Linked DNA regions of Homo sapiens. The protein of the gene in region 5 purifies or fractionates together with the protein of the main gene of each other region. This does not show direct contact. Each region holds a gene or a part of one and is shown on either strand. Other genes may lie near its edges.

Region 1 (2,344 bases), on a different chromosome or scaffold from region 5:
CGCCCCATGATTTCAGCAGCACCAAGTTTCCTGTATTAAATTCCTTTCTGTTTGAACTACCTACTGTGGTTTCTCTGGGGCCATTGCTACAACAGGCTGCACTTTTGAGAAGAGTAAAAAAAAGGTGAAGAAACACCTCTCCCTGAACACTCTTGTCATCTGTTAGAAAAGTGGTGGCATAAACTTGTAAGCCTACAAAGTGAATGGTGTGCCCTTAAAAGGTGCCATTCTTGTGCAGTACCCATCCTGCCTAACTGTACGCGGCAGCCCTGACTTTCCATTTCCTGACCCAGGATTCCATTTCCTGCTGTGAATTGGGACAACATACAAAACTGCCAAAGTAGTCATTGTAACCTGAGTTTGAACAATATTACTACACTATCCTATGTTTCCCCAAGGTTGCAAACCTCAAAATGCCAAGAGGTCCAAAAACCCAGGATGTGCTGCTGAGGTGGAGGGAAAGGAACCATGAAGAGCAAGAAAATCAGACAGACAAATGATTGTGAAAAACCAAACCTCAAAAAGCCACTTTAATTCCGGCCTAACAGCGCCAGGTGCAATGTCTGGGGACAGACTCTGGGTACAATGCTGTGTGGCGACCACTCACTCACACACGGCTCCAAGAAGGCCCCCAAGGGGGGACTTACCTTCAGGGGGCTGAGCCAAGGGGGAAAGGGGTGGCCCCAGAACAGGGGAAGGGGCAGGCATGGGGGGAAAAGGTGCTACTTCTTGGCAAAGGAGATCTTCATGGCGTTGTTCTGCGTGATCTTAAAGCCCTGCAGGGCATCGCGAGCTGCCCCTGCCTGTACCTCATTGTCAAACTCCACGAAGGCGATGTCATGCCGCCCGGGTACCAGACGGACCTCCTTGAAGCCAGGGAACCTGAAAGAGAACGACAGACCTCAGGGACTCAGCATTTCCCCCTAACGTAACGGCATCAAGTGGACAGAGGCCAGAAATGATGCCAAATAGCCTCCAATGCACAGGGCAGGGCCCCATTACTCAGAATTATCCAGCCCAAAATGCAGATAGTACTAAGTTGAAAAACTCTAATGTAAACATAGCATTTAATGAAAAATTTAAACACAAACACCCATGCAACTGCAACCTAAATCAAGAAACAGTACACCGCAGTCTCCTGGGCCCTTCCTAAATCATAACCCACCCGCCACACCAAAAAAATAACCAATACCCTCACTTTTTCCATTTTTATTCTTGTATTTTTAGGAGAGAAGGGGTTTCACCAAGTTGCCCACATTGGCCTCGAACTCCTGACCTCAAGTGATCCACCTGCCTCAGCCTCCCAACATACTGGGATTTTAGGCGTGAGCCACCGCACCCGGCCTTACCCTCACTTTTCTGATATGCTGTTTCTCTAATTTCCCTCTTCTCATTCCATACTTCTTTCTCCATTAAGCAGCCATCCTCATGTTTACTAGGTATCCTTTTTTCCATCGGCATTCTCACAAAATATACAGCTTTGTGGACAGGCTGCACATGTGGTATTGTTTTTCTGTATTTTTCAGGTTCTCACAATCTTCTCTCGGCACTATTATAAAGTTGCGCTTTCTGTTCTTCTAAGTGCCACGCAGTGCAGCATGGTGAGATGCTGCATGTAGCCATCCCTTCTCCCAGACACCCTCCAACTCCCCACCACAAACACTGACGAATGCCCCACTCACAGCCCCTGAAACAGAACCACCAGATGAACTCACCCACACCCACGACTTCACTCAACAATGGTGAACAGCCCCTCTACACATCGGCTGCACCGGCCTCCACCCTGACGCCAGGCACAAGAGTTTCACGCATCCCCATCTCCCACACTTGCTGTTTCTGAGCACGCTGACTTCTGCCAGTCTTAGCCAATGTTCAAGGACATCTCAATGCAGTTTTACACATACCTTGCCTTGCATGCCCCCATTTTAGGGGCTGGGAAAATGAGGCCCAGAGCCTGGACTCCCTCAGCCCTCAAACAAGGCTGAAAAAAGCCGGCAAGCCCTGGCCATGGAGACCTTTCCAGCCTCACCCCCATGTCCCCCACAGGCCGTGGGCCCAGCCACAGCCTCCTCCTTTCACATCTTTGGTCGCTGTCCCTTCTGCAAAGCCCTACTTGGCTCAGAGCTCTGCTGGCAGAGTTCTGAGGCCTGTTTCCATGGAGATGCCTCCTGGCCATCACCCTCCAGGGACCACCCAGCCACAGGCCCCACTTACTGATTGAAAAGCATGGACAGCATGAGCTCGTTGGTCTCCTCTGGCAGGTTGGTGAGGAACAAGATGTGATTCGGTGGATTCTCAGAAAGCTGCGGGGGTATAGGGGAGTCGGTGAGCACAAGAGCCCTGA
Region 2 (3,500 bases), on a different chromosome or scaffold from region 5:
GTTGCCCAGACTGGCCTCCAACTCCTGGGCTAAAGAGATCGACCCACCTCAACTTCCTTAGCAGCTAGCACTACAGGCACATACCACCACACCCCGTAACACTTAATTAACTTAATTAACTGAATTGAAGAAACAGAAGATGAAGGGGCGCTGTTCAGAAAAAGCAACTACTCTATAACAGAAAACACTGGACATATTTGGAAAGATACTTAGAATAAGAACACTGCTGACAGAATTGGGGATCAGGTATGGTGGCTCACACCTATAATCTCAACACTTTTGGAGGCAGAAAAGGGAGGATAGCTTAAGCCCAGGAGTTTGAGACCAGCCTGGGTAACACAGGGAGACCCCATCTCTACAAAAAAATTTAAAAATTAGCCAGGTATGGCGGCATAAACCTGTAGTCCCAACTACTCAGGAGGCTGAGATGGGAGGATTGCTTAAGCCCAGGAGGTCAAAACCGCAGTGAACCATGATTGTGCCACTTCATTCCAGCCTGGGTAACAGAGCAAGACCTTGTCTCAAAAAAAAAAGGGATTCTAAAGTAGAGGAGTTCAGAAAGGAACTAAAAGAGTGAGGCCCAAGGAGTTTACAGTTACCAAAGAAATAAATTCCTCAAAGCATACACTTACCCTCATCCATATCAATTGGATCAGGCCGCGCTGGTTTTGTTTCTGGATTTGGATCTATTTCTCCAGGTTTAAGTTTTCGTGGATCATCTGTTGTTTCCTCTTCATTGTCTCTTTGGGCAGCTTTATCCCTAGAAAAAAGCCCATAGGAGTTAGTCACACTACAGTACCATTTAGAGTTAAAATTACCAGATTTCCAAGTTCTGACGATATTTTTCCCCCCAAAAAAACCAATGGATGGGCTTTAACAACATAAAGCCTTTTTACTATCACTTCATCTGAAAGAAATGATATTAAAATTTGCTGATTTCAGTGACTGGTTTCAATCACTCTAAAATAGAACCCAAACAGATCCTAATCACAAATGCGGTACAGCCATACAAATTTAAAAAAAAAAAAAAAAAAAAAAAAACTATTAGTAAAGAACCAAAATGTTCCAGTAGTTAATTCTTAGCAGTGTGATTATGGGTGACTTTTATTTGCTCTTTTACTATTTTTTCCCCAGATTTTCTATGATGAACATGCATGACTTGTATAATTCTTTTAAATTATTATTTTAGGAAGTATATGACAGAAGGCATAATTTTGATCAACCATCTGAGATATGGAAAATATTATCCAATGGCTTTAGCTTTGGGTTTACTCACATCCATAATTAAAAGTTTAAAGACAGAAAATACTCAAAGTTTATTCAGCCTCTTTCAGAACATATACATATATTCTATGCTCTTTCTGAAGACTCACTTACAGAAGAAATTCATAGTGTTCTAAGCACTGGGCCGCTGTTCTTCCAATGATTGGAGCAATGGTCCTCCACTGAGTTGGCATCAACTTGGCCAAGTGCAAGAGTTTTTCCTCTTCTTCTCTGGACCATTCTGTCTTCTTAATGCTTGGATCCAGCCATTCATACCTATTAAACATAGATCATTTTATATATTAATCAGTTACCTGGCATAAATATCCAATTTGCACAATGGATACACTGACTTGTGCTCTCATCCTTCAATTACAAAAACTGTTCTTTTTGACAACAGAATATTTGCTGTGTGGTTACACTTACCCCAGTCAATATTCCCCATCTCATCACATTCTATTTTATTTTAATTATGCAAGATTAGTAATGGTTAAAAAAGGTTACTTCACTGAATCATGATCATAAGCCTTCTTTCTCATCTATCATGTTTTTATTTATTTACGCTTTTCTAGAAATTTTGAAATATTTGGAAGACAATACAAAATCACGTTTCTTACAGTGTTTCCAGTTTTCATACTATTTTCTCATGCTTTGATTCTCACACCATGGCTTATTTCTTTAAGCATTTGACTTACACTCACTAAATTCACCGTAACCTTTCATTTGATATGTTTTAAAATTTAAGTAAAACTACTATGACATTCCCTCTGTCTTTCCTAATTCCCCACCCAGCCCACCTTTTCCATCCAGTCTACTTAGCTGGATGACAGGCAGGCAAACAGGACTTAAGTCCTACCAAATATGACAGCAGGAACTGGTACCACTAAGACAAACAGAAATCAGAACGACTTCTTCAGCCTAAAAATCATCTTCCTCTTAACAGCCAATTTCTACATTCAAAAAGCCTCACTCTGTCGCCCAGGCTGGAGTGCAGTGGCAGCATCTCAGCTCACTACAACCTCCACCTCCTGGGTTCAACCGATCCTCCCACCTCAGCCTCCCAAGTAGCCACCACGCCTGGCTAATTTTTGTACTTTTAGAAGAGACGGGGTTTTCACCATGTTGGCCAGGCTGGTCTCAAACTCCTGACCTCAGGTGATCCCAGCCTTGGCCTCCCGAAGTGCTAGGCTTACAGATGTGAGCCACCACGCCTGGCCAATTTCTACATTCTGATACTTTCCCCTAACCAGGTGCCTAGGAAATTAGGTCATTCTTATACAATCCAAAGTATTTTCCTAATGCCACATGACTTGGGGATGGTGCTAAATAACTCATGCCAAGAACACCCTAAATAGCTTCACGTGTCCACTACCCTATGATTTAAGAGGTGACACCAGCCGGGCGCGGTGGCTCACGCCTGTAATCCCAGCACTCTGGGAGGCCGAGGTGGATGGATCACGAGGTCAGGAGATCAAGACCATCCTGGCTAACACGGCGAAACTCCGTCTCTACTAAAAATACAAAAAATTAGCCGGGAATGGTGGCAGGAGCCTGTAGTCCCAGCTACTCAGGAGGCTATGGCAGAAGAATGGCGTGAACCCGGGAGGCAAAGCTTGCAGTGAGCTGAGATCACGCCACTGCACTCCAGCCTGGGCGACAGAGCAAGACTCCGTCCCAAAAAATAAAAATAAAAAAGAGGTGACACCACAGGTTCAGAGTTGGCTTATATCTTTTAATATATATAACATATTAAATATGTTTAATATATACAATATATAACATATTAAATATGTTTAATATATAATATATAACATATTAAATATGTTTAATATATAATATATAACATATTAAATGTTTAATATATAATATATAACATATTAAATATGTTTAATATATAATATATAACATATTAAATATGTTTAATATATAATATATAACATATTAAATATGTTTAATATATAATATATAACATATTAAATATGTTTAATATATAATATATAACATATTAAATATGTTTAATATATAATATATAACATTAAGTATGTTTAATATATAATATATAACATATTAACTATAAAATATATAATATTTCAACTGTATTATGAGGAAACTCAACTACTGTAGGCTTACTTAGAAAATTAGCCATTATTTATCATTTATTTCTTTGAGCAAGTAATTTCTAAAACAGCTAACTTATGCACTTTTAGAACACAATTAATTTACAAGCTGGGGCTCAT
Region 3 (3,327 bases), on a different chromosome or scaffold from region 5:
CATCACAGGTGGGTCGCCCCAGTTTTTTTGTTTTTTGTTTTTTTTTTTGAGACAGAGTCTTGCTCTGGCACCCAGGCTGGATGGAATGCAGTGACTCTATCTTGGCTCACTGCAACCTCTGCCTCCCAGGTTTAAGCAATTCTCTGCCTCAGCCTCCCGAGTAGATGGGATTACAGGCACCCGCCACCACGCCCAGTTAATTTTTGTATTTTTAGTAGAGATGCGGTTTCAACATCTTGGCCAGGCTGGTCTCGAACTCCTGACCTCATGATCCACCCGCCTCGGCCTCCCAAAGTGCTGGGATTACAGGCGAGCCACCACGCCTGGCCTGGTTGCCCCAGCTCTTAACAGCGTCAGCTACCAGGTTCTCAGGTCCACGGACATCACATACCTCCGAACTCCAAAGGATGCCCATGATTCTACATCAACAGGGCCCTTTATGTTTCAGGAAGCTCAAGTTTATTTCTGATACTTGCAGCCAAACTGACCTTGCCTGAGACAGCAAATGACAATGAGGAGACCGAATGCAGGAGGCTCAGAGGGCAGAGGCTGCCTCTGTGTTGCTCAACTAGAAGCCCGGCACACAGCTGGTGATCCAATAGGTACTTGCTGAATCAGTAAAAGAGTGAACAAGAGCAACAGCAAGCAGCAGAAGCAGATGAGCGAGTGACATTTACAACCCCAGCATGCGTCACTGCCAAGCTGGGCGCCCAGTACACTGAGCTCAGTGAACTCGGGGTTATTTCCACTAAGAGGAGTACAATGAGGCAGGAAAAGGGGACCCCCAGCTAGCAAGGGCGGACGCCAGCATGTGGGCTCAGGCCTCTCCAGGCTGGTGCCCCTGCTCCTCACAGTAACCCAGAACGAGGAGGCAGGCAGCTGTCAGAAATGTGATGGCCACAAGAGAGAGAAGCCGGAGATGAGGACGCGATGGGAGAGGTGGGCCGGCAGGAGACAGAGAAGCAGAAAGCAGCAGAGAAGGGAGAACAAGGCCACCAGGCCCAGGGCCCCCGAGAGCCCGTCGAAGGCAGGATGTGCTCACCTAGCCGCCGGGGCCTCCAGCCCTTCACGGTTCGGCCCCTCTCCACGTCCACAAGGACCCTCCTGCCATCAATCTTCTTGCCATCTGCGTGTTTGTAAGCGGCTGTAACAGATGTGGGGAGGGGGAGGGGAGAGGAGTCCCCAGAGGGTCCTCTAGTCAGGACAGGCCCAGCTCTACAGAATCCCCGCCCCGTGTCCCCATCATCACGCACACGCACACGCCCAACAGACAGCCAGGCAACTGACAGCCAGACCAACCCTCTCCCAAACCGGTGAAGGGCCTGCTCCATCTCAGCGTCTGCTTCCTCTCAGCGCCCCAACCACTCCTGGTCGGGGGAGACGTCCACCCTCACCCGCCACCCCCTAGGCTCCCCGGCCCTTCCTCTCCCACATGATGGAACAGCCCCCTCCCGCCAGGGCGGCCAAAATCGCTGCAAAGAAACTGAAGGTTAACTCCACGCTGGACTCTGCTGTGGGGGAGGGGGCTCCTCCACAACCCCAAGCATGCACCCTGAGACACCAAGCCGGGGCAGGAGGCCCAGCTGGGACGCTCCGCACCCCAGACCACACCGGTTTTTTCTGTTTTTGTTTTTTTTGGAGGGGGGTGAGTGTGGGGGGAACAGACATCAGAACAGAAAATGAACCAGAAGGGGGTGGGAGAAATCTTCAGGAAATGGCAGGGAGCAGAGAGGCGGGTTATACACTCCCAGGGGGCCTGGCGGGGCCCCTGCAGCAGGGGAGAGGGGCAGTGGAGGAAGCATGGGGAGCCGTGCGGTGCTACTGAAAATCCCTGCCTTACCTGAGACGACTGACTCTGCCTCCCCCCAGCCCTGCCCCATCTCGCCCTCCACACCCCCGGCTCAACACGTGCTGGGAGCGCACCCCAGCCTGAGCCTGCCAGGAAAGGGGAGTCGTAGAGGGGAGACGGGGGAGAGGCTCACTGCTGCTCTCGGGCAGCGCGTAGCAGAAGGCAAGCCTGAGGCCCTGGCCTGTGATCAACGTGGGGCTGTCATGAAGGCCAAAAAGTCCCCGTTCCCCCACCCAGCCCTGGCCTAGGGGGCTGTCCTCAACCAACCGTAATACCCTGCCCCGCCCCAGCCCGCTCCCCCCCAAATAACAACCAGAGGAAGAGAAAAAGGTGCCATTTACCGATGCCGGCCTTGCGGGTGTCCAAACCGAGCGGGATGGGGGGGGCTCGGCAACTCCTGGGGGCCTGGCGAGGAGGCGGGCTTCCCGGGGGGGGGACACGGGACCGCTTACCTGGAGCCCCCAAGCTTACCTGAGCACGCGCACAGACCCCACACCCACCACCACGGGGTCAGCTAAAGCTACAGGGAGGGGAAGTGGGGGGTTCTAGGGAGCCAGGAGAGGGAGAGGAACCACATCTCCTGTACCACCTGGAGACAGGCAGAGGACGTGGTAGACCCCAAAGAAATCTCAAGGAGGCCTTAGAGTGGGGGAGACGAGGATTATCATCCAAGCTGGGCGCTGGAAAGCCCTGGACTATCTCGTGTGAATTTACAAAGAAGGCTAGGGAGGCCTCAGAAACCTGTCCGCCCTCACCAATCCCCGAGTCACACTGAACTAGGCACACAGCCCACCCCCTCCGAGGACCAGGAGTGACTTCTCCACCTCCAAATCCATGCTCCCTCCCACCAGCTGCGTCTGCAGAGGCTGGCACACAGGGGTCCAGGAGACGGTGCTGCCCGTGCTCTGAGGAGGGGCCGCTTGGCCCCTGAACCCACGGGAGGGGAGTGGGGAAAGGCATTTAAGGACCAGGATCAAAGTCAAGCGAAGGAACCCCGCTCGGGTTCAGAGTCCCAAACCCCAAAACAGGCCCATCCCGGGAGGAACAGCAAAGAAAACATGTGATTGTGTTCGTCTAGGCCTCTCTCTCTCTTTCCCTCTCTCAAGTCTCTAGACAGTGGAAGGTTCTTTAGTAAAAACCTACGACACCTTCAGCTGCTAGCAGCCTACCCCTTGGTCCCTCCCACACCCCAAGCCCCAATTCCATGCACTTTAGGGAGCTCCTGACCACCTCTGGAGAGCTGCTGGACACCACAGCCAGCCCCCTCGGGAGGCCTCAACCACAGTAAGGAAGACAGAAAGGGGGCAGAGCACCCCAAAACTAGCAGCCAAAAAGACTCTCCAGGGCCAGCACAGTAGCAGCCCCATAGAAAGCACGGGGGCAGGGAGGGAAGGCTGAAGGGCTCCAGTGGAGCCCTGGCCTGGAGCCCTGCCCTCGGTGTTCCTGCCACCTCGCCGCTGACATCACGAAGCCGGGTC
Region 4 (3,500 bases), on a different chromosome or scaffold from region 5:
CGCCCAAGTCCCTGATCTCACCTGGAAGAGGAGGCTCTGCTGGCCCATCTCCGAGTCTCTCTGCTTGGTCACTGCAACACAGAAAGCTCTCAGGTCCCGGCTGCTTGTCCTCTCCGAAGCTGAGGAACCTGGGGCAGGCTAATGCCACCCACTGAACGAGAGCGGGACCCCGGGGGAGGCCCTGCAGCTCTGGCAACCATTAGACAATCTCCGCCCAGGCTCTGGGATTCTGGTATAGGTGAAGGCACAGGTGCGCCAGAGCTGAGCTACCTGCGGAGTCACTCAGGCAGGGACCGAGGATGGTGCTCCTTTGTCCCAATCCCCAGAGCCCTTCACCAGGGGTGCTGGGATACCACCCAGCAGGAGTTGGGGCCACTGGGTAGGGAGGGGCCCTCGGCACCCTGGCTCTGGGATTCGAGCGGGGCCGCCTGAACAGGGCTGACACCATGTATACGGTGAGCGAGAGAGGATGCCCTTCCCGCCAGAGCTCAGCAGCCTGGACCCCGAGAATGGCTGCTGGGCTGCCTGCCGCCCGGCCACTCTCCATGCGGCCTCAGACACGCACACTCACAAGCCCTCTGCCGCCTCACCGTCCTGAGCCCAAGCCCAGGACCTGTCAGGGCCTCCCCACCAGGAGCCTGCCGCTCTAGCCACCCTCGCCCACCCGGTGCACCTGCCCCGGGACCTCTGCCCTGCAGGCTTCTGTCTGGAGGCCAGGCACACAGGCTGTCCCCGCCTTCTGTAAAGAACACTTGCTGGGTAGCGTGCCCGCCTTCCTGAACCCTATGGACACAAGTCTCTATCTTCCACCCTGGTCACTTCCCCAGCTTTCTGAACCGGGGTCACCTCTAGCCATTCCCACTGCTGAGGGTCCGGGAGGAGCTGCCTCTAACAGCCGCTTCTCCCTGTCCTCCTTCAAAGGCTTCAAGGTTAACCGGAGGGATGTGCCAGGGCTCACCACACCTCCACTTCCACTCTTTTGCTTGGCAAGAATTCCCAGAAGCTTCCACAAGACCCGGACAGGAGGGCACAGACTGTGGCTCAGCTGGGAAATGGGCTGCTGGGTGAGATGGGTGCTTATCGGGCCCAGCCTGACAGCTCCCAGACACAACGCCAGAGGCTGCAGGTGGGTGAGGGACGGCCACCAAGGCCGGAAAACAGTGGCTCAGGGAGGAGGCTATCAGGGCTGCACCTCCCGCACTGGAGACTAAAGAACACACTTATGTCACGGCAGCGGCTGTGGCCGGCCCCGCTGCGGGCAGACTCACCTTTGTAGCCCGGGCGGCCGATCTTCACAAACTTCTTCACCTCCACCTTGACCTTCTCAGGCGCGGGCTGGGCAGGGGCCTCCTTGGCCTCCTTGGCTGCTCGCCGGGCCCTGCGGACAGGATGGAGGTGCTGCTGGGACCCCTCCACACACAGGCACCAAAGCCATGGGCCCAGGTGCCAGGAGCCCCCTGACCTTGGAGCTCACTACAAGCTGAGAGATGAGGAGGGCCAGGGGCCTGGGAGGGGCCCTGGGGTTTGGCTGAGGACAGGGATAGGACAGGCATGTTCTCTTCCTGTCATGCTCCTCACTGTCCCTGGCTGGGGCCCTTCCAACAACTCCATGCCTCTGCTCTTTTTTTTTTTTTTTAATAAGACAAGAGTCTCACTCTGTCGCCCAGGATGGAGTACAGTGGCAGCACCTTGGTTCACTGCAATCTCTGCCTCCCAGATTCAAGATTCTCCTGCCTCAGCCTCCATAGTAGCTGTGATTACAGACGTGTGCCACCATGCCTGGCCTAATTTTTGTATTTTTAGTAGAGATGGAGTTTCACAATGTTGGCCAGGCTGGTCTCGAACTCCTGACCTCAAGTGATCTGCCCGCCTCAGCCATCCATGCCTCTGTTCTCTAATGCTCCCCAGGAACCGTACTCAAGCGCCCAGGGAGGCTCAGGCCAGGCTGGCTCCCCGGCTGTGGAGCAGTGGCCCGCGAGGCTCACAGAGACTTGAGCCAACGGCTGCTGGAGCACCAGGCATCAAAGGGACATGAGGTACTCACAGGTTGGTCTGGTGCTTCTTCCCCTGCGTATGTGCCAGGTAGCTCCCCTGGAGTGGAAAGGAAACACGCATGACTCGAGGCCGGGCGGACAGACACAGGCAGGTCCCCCTGACGTCAGCCACTCAGCCCGCCGCGAGCCGCCCGGAGCCAGGCAGAGGCCGCACCTCATTGTTGTGAAGTGTCAGGCAGAGTTTGCATTCATAGGAGCCCAGGTGGTTCTTCATGAAGTACGGGTCCTGGAGGGGAAGAACAGGGGCCCGTTAGACAGAAGATCGCGGCCTGCTGCCGTCAAGGCCCTCAGAGGCGGGATCCCCTTTCTGTAGAGGCATGGAGGCAGAACCCCCCTTCTGTAGAGGCATGGCTACCGCTGACAGTGGTCAAGCATTTCTGAAAACGGGGGATCCAGCGGGAGGCCTTCGTGAGCACGGGTGTCACCACCTGGGGCTGTGGGCCAGGCTTCGAGCAGTGGGGGTTCCCAGGGAGCCCCCGACACCACCTTCCTGGTGGTTCTGAGTCAGAGGGAGGCACAGCCAGGACAGCACCGCCGGTCACTCCCGAGGCAGGGAGCCGTCCACTGCCCACGCCACCACGCCAGCAGTAGGCACAAGGCAGACACAGGCACAAGAAAAGCAAATGGGCTACACTGAAGACCCAAAGACCCGCCCATCTGCAGGCCCTAAGCTGGGGCAGCCGGGCGCACACATCTCGTCTCAGACGCTGGAGTTCAAAGTCTAACTCCACCATCTGCGGCTGTGGCACCCCCTCTACCCATGACCTCATCTGGAAGACGGGGACGGTAACAGAGCCCTTGCCATAGGCCAGGCCCGTGGGGCATGTCAGGGTACACAAAGAGTGCTCCAGCCCCGATGTCCACGGTGCTGAGGGGACTCGGCTCACCCCTGCCTCTGCACAAGCTAAAATCAAAGGCTGCCCTTCACCACATCTGGCTGGACTGACATCAGCTCTCCCCACTCCCAGAAAATTAAATAATGCAAAACAGAAGGCTGTGGACAGAACAAAACATGTCCACATGGGACTCAGAGCCACAGAGGGTCTGCTCTCTGGGGTGGACAGATGGGAGCTGTGGCTGCTCGGGGGCAACAGGGGAGCGTCTGGACACGGGGCTGCATCGCCCAGCCTGGGCGGAGGCCCAAGAAGAGCCTCTGGCACCCTCTCCAGGGCTGCCCTGGAAAGCCCAGCACCCACCACAGGCAGCTGCACGGTGGCTGGCCCACCTTGTTGATGTCGATGGTCTCCAGGGCCAGCTGCCGGAGGCGCTCCCTGCGGTCACGGTTGCTCTCGGAGGAGGAGGCCACGCCCCCGCTCCCGGTCTTGCCCCCGGGGCGATGCTGGAAGTCCATGGTGATGGCCTTAGGGCTTTAGCAGACTGGGAGACACCTGTGGAGGCCAAGAGGAGAGTGAGGAAGATGGCTCAGAACTCGGGGCTGCTGCTGGG
Region 5 (3,500 bases):
GATCTTGGCTCATTGCAAGCTCTGCCTCCTGGGTTCACGCCATTCTCCTGCCTCAGCCTCCCGAGTAGCTGGGACTACAGGCGCCCGCCACCACACCTGGCTAATTTTTTGTATTTTTTTTAGTAGAGACAGGGTTTCACCGTGTTAGCCAGGCTGGTCTCAATCTCCTGACCTCGTGATCTGCCCGCCTCAGCCTCCCAAAGTGCTGGGATTACAGGCGTGAGCCACAGTGCCCAGCCCCACATCCAGATAATTTTTAAACTTTTTTGCTTTTCAGAAGAGACAGGGTCTAACTATTTCTGAAAGAGGATAGAATAAAAAGTAAATACTAAAACCCCAAAACAGGGCAGGTGTGGCTTAGGCCTGTAATTCCAATACTTTGGGAGGCCAAGGTGGGAGGATCGCTTAAGTCCAGGAGTGCAAGACTAGCCTGGGCAACAGAGTGAGATCCTCTATTTATCTTTTCCGAATCGTTGTGGTGTGCTTTTGTGTGTGTGTGAGACTAGGTCTCACTCCGTCGCCCAGGCTGGAGTGCAGTGGCACTCCATAGCTCACTGCAGCCTTGACTTCCTGGGCTCAAGTAATCGTCCCAACTCAGCCTCCACCTGAATGGCTGGGACTACAGGCATGTGCCACCACATCCGTCTATTTTATTTTTTTTACAGACAAAGTCTTGTCATGTTGCCCAGGTTGGTCTTGAACCCCTGGGCTCAAGTGATCCTCCTGCCTCAGCCTCTCAAAGTGTTGGGATTATAGGAGTAGCCACCACATTTTGTCCCACCCCACTTTTATAACAGAAAATGTTATTGAACAAGCAAGGAAAAGTGCTAAGAGGATGTTCTCATTCCCAAAAGGCAGAATGACTGGATCTGGGAAGGACAGGCAAGCCTCACAGCCTGAGATGTGCTGAACAAACTAAACTGTGCTCAGAGTTCACCCACCACCAGCTTTAGCTACGCCACAGTCTGCTGGCTCTTATTCAATGTGCCTAGGTTTTGATAGACCCAGTGAGGCCTCTACATCCTGTTACAGGCTAAATTGTATCCCTCAAAAAAATTCATTGTTGAAGTCCTAATACCCAGCACCTCAGAATGTGATCATATTTAGAGACAAAAAATCTTTACAGGCCAGATGTGGTGGCTCATGCCTGTAATTCCAGGAGTTTGAGAGACTGAGGCAGCAGGATCACTTGTGGCCAGGAGTTTGAAACTGGCCTGAAAAACATATCAAGACTCCGTCTCTACAAAAAAATTTAAAAATTAGCCAGGTATGGTGGGGCACACTGGTAGTCCTGGATACTTAGAAGACTGAGGTGAAAAGATCTCTTGAGCCCAGAAGTCCAAGGCTGCCCATGAGCTATGATCAAACCACTGCACCCCAGCCTGGTCAACAGACCAAAGCTTAATCTCAAAAAAAAAAAAAAAAAAAAAAAAAGAAAAGAAAAAGGAAAAGAAAAAAAAGGCTGGGTGCAGTGGCTCATGCCTGTAATCCTAGCACTTTGGGAGGCCAAGGTGGGCAGATTGCCTCAGCTCAGGAGTTAGAGACCAGCCTGGGCAACATGATGAGCCTCCATCTCTATTAAAAATACAAAAAATATTAACATTAGTGGGGTACGGTGGCCCATGCCTATAACCCCAGCTACTCAGGAGGCTGAGGCAAGAGAGTTGCTTAAACCCGGGAAGACGGAGGTTTGCAGTGAGCTGAGATTGTGCCACTGTACTCCAGCCTGGACAACAGAGCAAGATTCTGTCTCAAAAAAAAAAAAAAAAAAAAAAAAAAAAAAGGCCAGGTGCAGTGGCTCACGCCTGTAATCCTAGCACTTGGGAGGCTGAGGCAAACTCAGGAGTTTGAGACCAGCCTGGGCAACATGGGGAAACCCTATCTCTACTAAAAATACGAAAAACTAGCTGGGCATAGTCCCAGCTACTCAGGAGGCTGAGGCATGAGAAGTGCTTGAACCCAGGAGGCAGAGGTTGCAGTGAGCTGAGATCATGCCACTGCACTCCAGCCTGGGCGACAGAGTGAGACTCTCAAAAAAAAAAAAAAAAAAAAAAAAAAAAAAAAAAAAAAGCAAGCAAGCTGGGCATGGTGGCTCACATCTGTAATCCCAGCACTTTGGGAGGTCGAGGCGAGCAGATCACAAGGTCAGGAGTTCGAGACCAGCCTGGCCAATATGGTGAAACCTGTCTCTACTAAAAATATAAAAATACAAAAATTAGCTGGGCATGGTGGCAGATGCCTGTAGTCCCAGCTACTCAGGAGGCTGAGGCAGGAGAATCGCTTGAACCTGGAAGGCAGAGGTTGCAGTGAGCCAAGATCGCGCCACTGCACTCCAGCCTGGGTGACAGAGCAAGACTGCAGCCTGGGTGACAGAGCAAGGCTCCATCTCAAAAAAAAAAAAAAAAAAATTCTTTATAAACATAATTATGTTAAGATGAAGTCATTAGAGTGGGCCCTAATCCTACATGCATGGTATCCTTATAAGAAGAATCTGGACAGAAACACTACAGAGGGAAGACCAAGTGAAGACACAGGAAGAGAGCCATATATAAGCAAGGAGAGAGGCCTGAAACAGATCCTTCCTTCACATTCCTCAGAAGAAACCAGCCTTGCCAACACCTTGATCTCAGACTTCCAGCCTTCAGAACTATGAGAAAATAAATTTGTGTTGTCTAAGCTGCCCAGTCTGTGAAACTTTGTTATGGTAGCACTAGCATACAAATACAAGCAGGGAGGCAGGTGGCTGTCCCCCACCATTGGTCAGGCATGGTTCCTTCTGAGGCCAAGGTGCTATTTTTATCCCTGATTTAGAGGAGGGACCAGAGGATGAAGGAGGTCCAAAGCTAAGCTCGCCCCAAGTCACCCTAGGGGGCAGGCTACAAGCTGATTCCAGGTCTGTCGGACACCAAGGTCTGTGCACTTTGTGTCATGTTGACTGCATCTCTGAATGGCTACCAAGGTTATCTGGTTAGACACCTTCACGTTACGGATGGGATGACAAAGGCCCTGGAAACCCAGCAAGTTGTCCAAATACATACAGCTAATTGAACAAACCCATTAAGCTTCACTAACCCAAGTCTTGCATTCTCCTCACCAAATTAAAGAACCTTAAAGTGGATGAGCATGCCTTAAGCCAGAGGACTGGATATATGAGAGATGATAAACTTATCTACCCTCAATAGATAAACTGATCTATTGACAGTAATGCAATAAACCTGAGTCACCAGAGGTCTACTTCTCTGCATTCAGGGAACTGACCAAGCTTGTCAACCTCGCAGGAAGATGACAGACGCTCAAAGCTACAGAAAAATCACAAATAAATGAACCCTGCAAACCAATGGATGGTCAGGATGCCTGACCGCGGTGTAAGGTGCTTTACCTCTCTGACCTTCTCATCTGGAAAAAAGCAATAGGTATCATATGTTGAACACTCACAGTATGTGAGGCACTGAGCAGCTATGGCACACATACAGCTCATCTGATCTTTGTAAAAGTCCTGG
Region 6 (3,500 bases), on a different chromosome or scaffold from region 5:
GAAGCCTTTCTGCCAAGGGCTCAGACTGGTTCTGCCAGAGTGTTGGAGGAGGCTGTGAAGAGGTGGCAGAGAGCCGACTTCACCATGAAGCTTGTGTGTTGCAATTGAAACCTTCATTTGGCTCAGCATTTTAGTACCTGAGAGCCAAGTTTCGGTGTTTTAGCTTCTGTTAAGATTTTCAAGGCCAAGCTTTAATACAGTCCAATCTTCCTGAGATTTCAGATTTTTGTTTTCTAGCAAAAGGGTATTGCCATTGGATTAGTTTTAGAGCAAGTATTGGATCACTGCATTGATAACCTTTCTTACTCTGTCTTGTCATTTGCGGTATTAAATCTTAAATGTTAACCTATCTATAAGTTATTTAGACCTTTTTCAAGTTGACAAAACTGTTCTTCCTGGTAATATTGATGTGAAGTTTGAGCACTGTATGTAATATTCTTTGCAAGATGGAAAAGAACCTAAAATAATTCAGTCAGTTTGGCTTCCTCAGGTTTTGGGGGGCTTTTAAAATTAAGCCACCAAAGTTGTTCACATCCTGGTTATAACTATTGGCTGTTCATAATGAAACTATGGCCTCTTGATAGATTAATCACTATTGCTTATCAAATGAGCTCCCAAAATTTCTTTGCAACAACTTTCAGGGTCTTTTCATGGTCATTGTCCTTTTTCTTTCCGTCATCTTTGTATTTATCTTCTGCTCCAGCAGAATTGATCTCCCTGCACTGCTCTACATCACTTAATATTTTTTTAATCTCTACCTGTGCTAGAATGCTTCACCCACATACATACCTGCCTGTCAGTGTTCCCCTTGTCTTTTAAGCCAGCCTTGTTGTAGCCTCATCTGTGGCCCCTACCTCCTGAATTGCTATAGATTTAGACAATCGCTACAGATTTTTAGGCTTTCCTAGCAGCAGAACTTACTTCCCCCCAAAACTAAATCAGGGAAGGTGACTTATGAGACATAAAAGCAGAGTTCTTGGCAGGCAGTTTATTTTTTTATTTAATTATTTTTATTTTTAAGTTTTTTTTTTGAGACAAGGTCTTACTCTGTTGTACAGGTTGGAGTGCAGTGGTGTGATCATGGCTCACTGCAGCCCCAACTTCCTGGGCTCAAGCTATTTCTGCCTCAACCTCCCAAGTACCTGGTGGGACTGTAGGCGCATGCCATCATGCCTGGCTAATTTTTGTGTTCTATTTTATAGAGACAGGATTTCACCTTGGTGCCCAGGCTGGTCTTGAGCTCCTGGGCTCAAGAGATTCTCCCACCTCAGCCTCCCAAGTAGCTGGGACTACAGGCGTGCGCCACCATACATGGCTTTTTTTTTGGTATTTTCAACAGAGTTGGTGTTTCACCATGTTACCCAGGCTTGTCTTGAACTCCTAGCCTTAGGTGATCTGCCTGCTTTGGCCTCCCAAAGTGCTGAGATTACAGGCGTGAGCCACCACACGCAGCCCCTATCTTTTTTAATGTAGAGAATAAACTACAAATAAAACTCCATCATTAGAGATCGGGTAACTATACTTTTCAGAGTACCTGGGTTCTGCTCATTTTGCACATAGTTTGGCTTATGTGTACATCTCTGTCCCATTTGACAGAAATTTGTAGGTCCCTTATTTGCTGTCTCTTGCATTGTCATAGTTTTCCTGAACTGAGGTGATTTTTGTTCACAAAGGTATCCACTTTATTTTATGAAGCACAGTCACTACAAATACCATATATGTTTAGGTAATTGCAGTGTTTCACAACAAATTTGGGATTGGGCTCTTTATTATCATTGGAGTGATTAAAAAAAAACTTTTGACAATCGTTTGTGTTTCATTGGTAGGAACTAGAACTGCTGTGAATTGTGGTAGGGTGTTGCCAAATGGGAAGGCCCTTCCTGGATCTCTGTGTCTGCATCGCAGAGTTTTCTAGAGTAGGAGGCTGTTGTTTAATGTTGCCTAATGCCAACGTTAGAGCTCCAGGGATTGACGTGTTTGCTGACTGCTCAAAGTCTATTTCAACACCAGTTTCTGGGTCCGAGTGAGTATTAAATAACTGCCTTGCTTTTTTGTCATAGGATTTTGGCATTAGAGAAGCTCGGTGCTGTCTTCAATCAAGTAGCCTTCCCACTGCAGTACACACCCAGGAAATTTGTCATCCACCCTGAGAGTAACAACCTTATTATCATTGAAACGGACCACAATGCCTACACTGAGGCCACGAAAGCTCAGAGAAAGCAGCAGATGGCAGAGGTAATGAGACTAACGTTCAGGGGTTCTATTAAAAGATGTGTGAAATTATGTTGAAAAGTTTAAACTGCCCGGCACTTTGGGAGGCTGAGGTGGGAGGATTGCTTGAGGCCACTAGTTCGAGACCAGCCTGGGCAACATAGCAAAACTGCACCTCTATTAAAAATTTTAAAAGATAGCCTGGTGTGTTGGTGCACTCCTGTAGTCCCAGCTACTTGGGAGGCTGAGGCAGGAGGATCACTTGAGCCCAGGAGTTCAAGACTGCAGTGAGCCATGATCATGCCACTGCATACCAGTGGCACTCTGGACACGAGACTCTATCAAAAGTTTAAACTCCTGTAATTGTTAGTATATTCTTTGTTTTTAAAGATCTAGGCTTTTTTCAGCTTTTTTAAGCAGAGGCCTTTGCCCCAAAGTACTTCATTTTAGAGCCTTTCTTGTAACCCAGGACTATACTCTGACCTCCATTTATTCACAATTAAGTTCCCTCTCTGAAACAGAATTCTCCCGTCCTTGAGCTTCCAAAATAGACTGTATTTCCTTTATTTGGGCCCAAAAGAGACAGCTTTCATGTTCTCCACAACACCAGCTCTTTCTAGAACTCATTGCCTAGCAGAAACCAAATAGCTACAACCACGTAGAACTGTATCCATCCTTAAAGAGTGGAGACAGAGTAGTTTTAGTAAGGGAAATCAGATGGGTTGGATAGAAAAGTGGAGTTTCCGTTGTCATTTTTCTCAAGCCACTAGTCCAATATTTGTCACAGCTATTGTTATTTTTGGTGTTTTCTACTAATATGTAACCAGCAATGTCTGGATTTCCCTTTCTGATCTTCTGTCTTCCCTAGTCTGTACACCTCTCCCTTTAATAGTCATGTCGGGAAATCCTGGCTGGGATGGCTGACTTTGCTGCTTTATGTATTGAGAACCCCCTGGAGTGTTCTTGCTACCTATCCTCTTCTCAGCCAGCCCCTACCTCTGAGCACGCCAACTCAGTTACTCGTTTTTTTGGGTTTAGGAAATGGTGGAAGCAGCAGGGGAGGATGAGCGGGAGCTGGCCGCAGAGATGGCAGCAGCATTCCTCAATGAAAACCTCCCTGAATCCATCTTTGGAGCTCCCAAGGCTGGCAATGGGCAGTGGGCCTCTGTGATCCGAGTGATGAATCCCATTCAAGGGAACACACTGGACCTTGTCCAGCTGGAACAGAATGAGGCAGCTTTTAGGTAAGCAGCCCAGGACAGTCCAGGGTTTGGCAGGCTGGAACAGGA
Region 7 (3,500 bases), on a different chromosome or scaffold from region 5:
TGGCTTAAGAAAATGTTTTCAAGGAATATGACATGTGAATGTCTGATTAATTAGGTAGAATTATACCAGACAACACCCCCTCCCCTAACACATACTCATTCCTCTCCTATTTTGGTAGCATAATATTTATTTCAGTGGTGATGGAGTCAAGACATTTGCAAGAATAGCTTTTGTGCAAGCTTTTAGCCCCAATGTCCCTCTAAGTTTATGTCAAAGAAGAGGCAAATAGATGCAGCAAATTGTGTGGAGGAAAGATAAAAGGAAAAGAGATTTTATATGGTTTATAATGGGAGACTACAATTCGGATATTCCCCTCACCACTCCTACCTAGTTCTAGTGCCCATTTTGACAACTCAGAGAATTACTCACTTTAAACATTTAGTTAAATTTCTTTATATTTCAGAAAGTTTAAGAACTGAAAATTACATTTGAAAATTGAGTTAACTTAAAATGTTTAGAATTTGTACAGCTATGACCTCTGATCTTCTCAGAGTCAACTTTTTTAAACTGACCTTTTAATTTATATGAAATTTTTATATAGAAACAACAATGCCAGTGACTTGAAAGTATTGCATTTTATAAAATTACTGAGTTCCCTGTAATTATTAATACTTAAAAGTTTTCATCTTTATGCATTTTTTTCTTCCATAAATTTTTGACTTATAATGTAACAGCTTGTTGACCCATTTGTTTTTTTCAGCCCTCATGATGTATTGGCTACACTTCTGAACAACCTCAAAGTTCAAGAAAGGCAGAACAGAGTTTGTACCACTGTAGCAATAGCTATTGTTGCAGAAACATGTTCACCCTTTACAGTACTCCCTGCCTTAATGAATGAATACAGAGTTCCTGAACTGAATGTTCAAAATGGAGTGTTAAAATCGCTTTCCTTCTTGTTTGAATATATTGGTGAAATGGGAAAAGACTACATTTATGCCGTAACACCGTTACTTGAAGATGCTTTAATGGATAGGTAAGTGACTTGAACTAAATACAAGAAAATAATTATAACTCTTCCTTCATTTTAGAACATCGTGAAATAGTTATTAGATGACTTTTTACTGTAACATAGTTAAAGAAAAAATTGCTAGCCTGGAGTCTTAGGACATTGTAAATATGACTTATTATTTTAAAATAATGTGCACGCTGTAGTGATTCCCCAGACTTTCTTTCAAGTTCTCCCATCCCCTTTAAATCTCTTTTCTTATCTATTGAATTAAATAAATTTTGAAAAGGGTTGATTGATAATCTTTTGTTTTCAAAATTGGTCAAATATAGTTAGAGGACATGATGAGCAGAAGCTAATGGGCAGAGACCTGATCTTTTTAGCTTTTTGTTGCAGGTAAAGGACAGGTTTCTCTTAAGCCTTTGAATTACTGAACAATAGCCTGCCAGAACTACACTCTTCCTGTTGCAGGTCCCTGGTGTTTCAGATGGTGACCACCAGTAGAGTACTGTTCAAGTTATTTGACAGATTGCTAATACCTTTTACCATCTAGACTGACGTACAGCCTTAAACACAGAAGTAACTGAAGAAAGTGCAAAGGAAAGTGCAAGCGTAGTAAGGGAAAGAACTGTTTCACTGGCTCTTTATTTTTCAGGAGAGATAAGTTACTCAAATCAGAGCCCATTCAAATACTTTTGTGTACAGATTTAAGTTATTCATTAATAACCTTCTGAAAGGGAGACTTAACTGGACTCGACAAGTTACCAGAACGTATATATGCAAGACATGGAGACAAAGTAAGAATTGTGCTCTGTAAAAGCCTGGCTGCCCAGGGCTAAAAAAAATGAGGGTAAATCACCCTTGCTCTGTATTCCTTAGTGAGAAGTGCCTGAGCACCATAGTGCAGTCATTAATGTATGTCACCTGCAGTTAAAAACTTTTTTCTGTGTACTAAGAAGTTAAGGGAGTAATTCCATTGAAAATTACTAAATGAAAAGAATACTTCAGTTGGAAATTTTATTAATGAGGAATACTGCTTCATTCTTATGCTGAATGACATTATTAAAATAAATAGGAAAAACAAGAATATTAGTAAATACAAGTATTTTTCTCTTTTCTCTTTGATATGGTCTGTGTTACTATCTTTGGAGCAAAGTGTGGAAACTCATTTTTTTTTTTGGACGGAGTTTTGCTGTGTCACCCAGTCTGGAGTGCAGTGGCATGATCTCGGCATACTGCAACCTCTGCCTCCCAGGTTCAAGTGATTCTTCTGCCTCAGCCTCCCAAGTAGCTGGGACTACAGGCGTGTGCCACCATGGCCGGCTAATTTTTTGTATTTTTGGCAAAGATAGGGTTTCACCGTGTTAGCCAGGATGGTCTCCATCTCCTGACCTCGTGATCTACCCGCCTTGGCATCCCAAAGTGCTGGGATTACAGGCGTGAGCCACCGTGCCCGGCCTGGAAACTCATTTTCATACCCATTGCAAATCCCATTGTGTTAGCCAGCGAGCTCATACTTGGTTGAATAATTGTGGAATGAATAACTCATTGATTTTTCATGAACATAAATTCAGTTAACATAGGAGATGATAGTTATTTCTGTAGGTTTGAAAAAATTATTGATCTTTTGTTCCTCTCCCCAAATTGAGTTATTGAATGAAACTTAAACTTTACGTGAGAAGGGAATTTAACTTTAATTTAGTTACCTATTATATACCAGTATCTGAAGTACTAGTAAAGATTTAAGTTTATAATCAAGAGTTTAAAATGATTTGGGAGGCCAAGGTGGGAGGATCGCTTGACCCCAGGAGCTCAAGACCAGCTTGGGCAACATAGCGAGGCCTTCCCTATCTCTAACAATAACAATAAAAAAGAAAAATAATTTTTCTTTTTTTTTTGAGACAGAGTTTCACTCTTGTTGCCTAGGCTGGAGTGCAGTGGCACAATCTCGACTCACTGCAACCTCCACCCCCCAGGTTCAAGTGATTCTCCTGCCTCAGCCTCCTGAGTAGCTGGGATTACAGGCGTGTGCCAAAATGCCCTACTAATTTTTGTATGTTTAGTAGAGACGGGGTTTCACCACGCTGGCCAGGCTGGTCTTGACCTCCTGACCTCAGGTGATCCATCTGCCTCGGCCTCCCAAAGCGCTAGGATTACAGACATGAGCCACCATGTCCGGCCTGAAAAATAATTTTAAAAAAGAGAAAAAAGTTTAAAATATTACTGTTTATTATTCATATGTTAGAACCACATGCCTCCTCTTTAGTAGCATAATAAAGCCAAGACTTCACAGAGCCCTCCTGCTCATATTCCTTTTAAAAGTTAATTAGATGGCCAGGCACGGTGGCTCACGCCTGTAATCCCTGTACTTTGGGAGGCTGAGGCGGGCAGATCACAAGGTCAAGAGATCGAGACCATCCTGGCCAACATGGTGAAACCCTGTCTCTACTAAAAATACAAAAATTAGGCAGGCGTGGTGGCACACACCTGTAATTCCAGCTACTCAGGAGGCTGAGGCAGGCGAATTGCTTGAACCTGGGAGGCAGAGGTTGCA

What was found.
Region 1: the proteins of SNRPD3 (region 5) and SNRPA purify together in Homo sapiens (affinity purification with mass spectrometry; 3 studies listed by BioGRID and IntAct, with this or other methods). This does not show direct contact.
Region 2: the proteins of SNRPD3 (region 5) and CDC5L purify together in Homo sapiens (affinity purification with mass spectrometry; 3 studies listed by BioGRID and IntAct, with this or other methods). This does not show direct contact.
Region 3: the proteins of SNRPD3 (region 5) and SNRNP70 purify together in Homo sapiens (affinity purification with mass spectrometry; 7 studies listed by BioGRID and IntAct, with this or other methods). This does not show direct contact.
Region 4: the proteins of SNRPD3 (region 5) and SF3A2 purify together in Homo sapiens (affinity purification with mass spectrometry; 4 studies listed by BioGRID and IntAct, with this or other methods). This does not show direct contact.
Region 6: the proteins of SNRPD3 (region 5) and SF3B3 fractionate together in Homo sapiens (co-fractionation; 2 studies listed by BioGRID). This does not show direct contact.
Region 7: the proteins of SNRPD3 (region 5) and SF3B1 fractionate together in Homo sapiens (co-fractionation; 4 studies listed by BioGRID and IntAct, with this or other methods). This does not show direct contact.

Annotation. Positions count from the first base shown.
Region 1 is NC_000019.10:40,763,546-40,765,889, reverse strand, and holds the end of SNRPA (U1 small nuclear ribonucleoprotein A), read right to left. Parts: intron 2,304-2,344; coding exon 2,215-2,303; intron 883-2,214; coding exon 723-882; 3' UTR 501-722; downstream 1-500. UniProt on the Homo sapiens protein: Component of the spliceosomal U1 snRNP, which is essential for recognition of the pre-mRNA 5' splice-site and the subsequent assembly of the spliceosome. U1 snRNP is the first snRNP to interact with pre-mRNA.
Region 2 is NC_000006.12:44,390,706-44,394,205, reverse strand, and holds part of CDC5L (cell division cycle 5-like protein), read right to left. Parts: intron 1,540-3,500; coding exon 1,378-1,539; intron 761-1,377; coding exon 633-760; intron 1-632.
Region 3 is NC_000019.10:49,102,451-49,105,777, reverse strand, and holds part of SNRNP70 (U1 small nuclear ribonucleoprotein 70 kDa), read right to left. Parts: intron 2,352-3,327; exon of another isoform or gene 2,191-2,351; intron 1,145-2,190; coding exon 1,043-1,144; intron 1-1,042. UniProt on the Homo sapiens protein: Component of the spliceosomal U1 snRNP, which is essential for recognition of the pre-mRNA 5' splice-site and the subsequent assembly of the spliceosome. SNRNP70 binds to the loop I region of U1-snRNA.
Region 4 is NC_000019.10:2,243,324-2,246,823, reverse strand, and holds part of SF3A2 (splicing factor 3A subunit 2), read right to left. Parts: intron 3,443-3,500; 5' UTR 3,406-3,442; coding exon 3,280-3,405; intron 2,281-3,279; coding exon 2,209-2,280; intron 2,092-2,208; coding exon 2,045-2,091; intron 1,379-2,044; coding exon 1,269-1,378; intron 72-1,268; coding exon 22-71; intron 1-21. UniProt on the Homo sapiens protein: Component of the 17S U2 SnRNP complex of the spliceosome, a large ribonucleoprotein complex that removes introns from transcribed pre-mRNAs.
Region 5 is NC_000022.11:24,558,999-24,562,498, reverse strand, and holds part of SNRPD3 (small nuclear ribonucleoprotein Sm D3), read right to left. Parts: intron 1-3,500. UniProt on the Homo sapiens protein: Plays a role in pre-mRNA splicing as a core component of the spliceosomal U1, U2, U4 and U5 small nuclear ribonucleoproteins (snRNPs), the building blocks of the spliceosome.
Region 6 is NC_000016.10:70,561,816-70,565,315, forward strand, and holds part of SF3B3 (splicing factor 3B subunit 3), read left to right. Parts: intron 1-2,060; coding exon 2,061-2,235; intron 2,236-3,249; coding exon 3,250-3,455; intron 3,456-3,500. UniProt on the Homo sapiens protein: Component of the 17S U2 SnRNP complex of the spliceosome, a large ribonucleoprotein complex that removes introns from transcribed pre-mRNAs.
Region 7 is NC_000002.12:197,393,529-197,397,028, reverse strand, and holds part of SF3B1 (splicing factor 3B subunit 1), read left to right. Parts: intron 1-700; coding exon 701-973; intron 974-3,500. UniProt on the Homo sapiens protein: Component of the 17S U2 SnRNP complex of the spliceosome, a large ribonucleoprotein complex that removes introns from transcribed pre-mRNAs.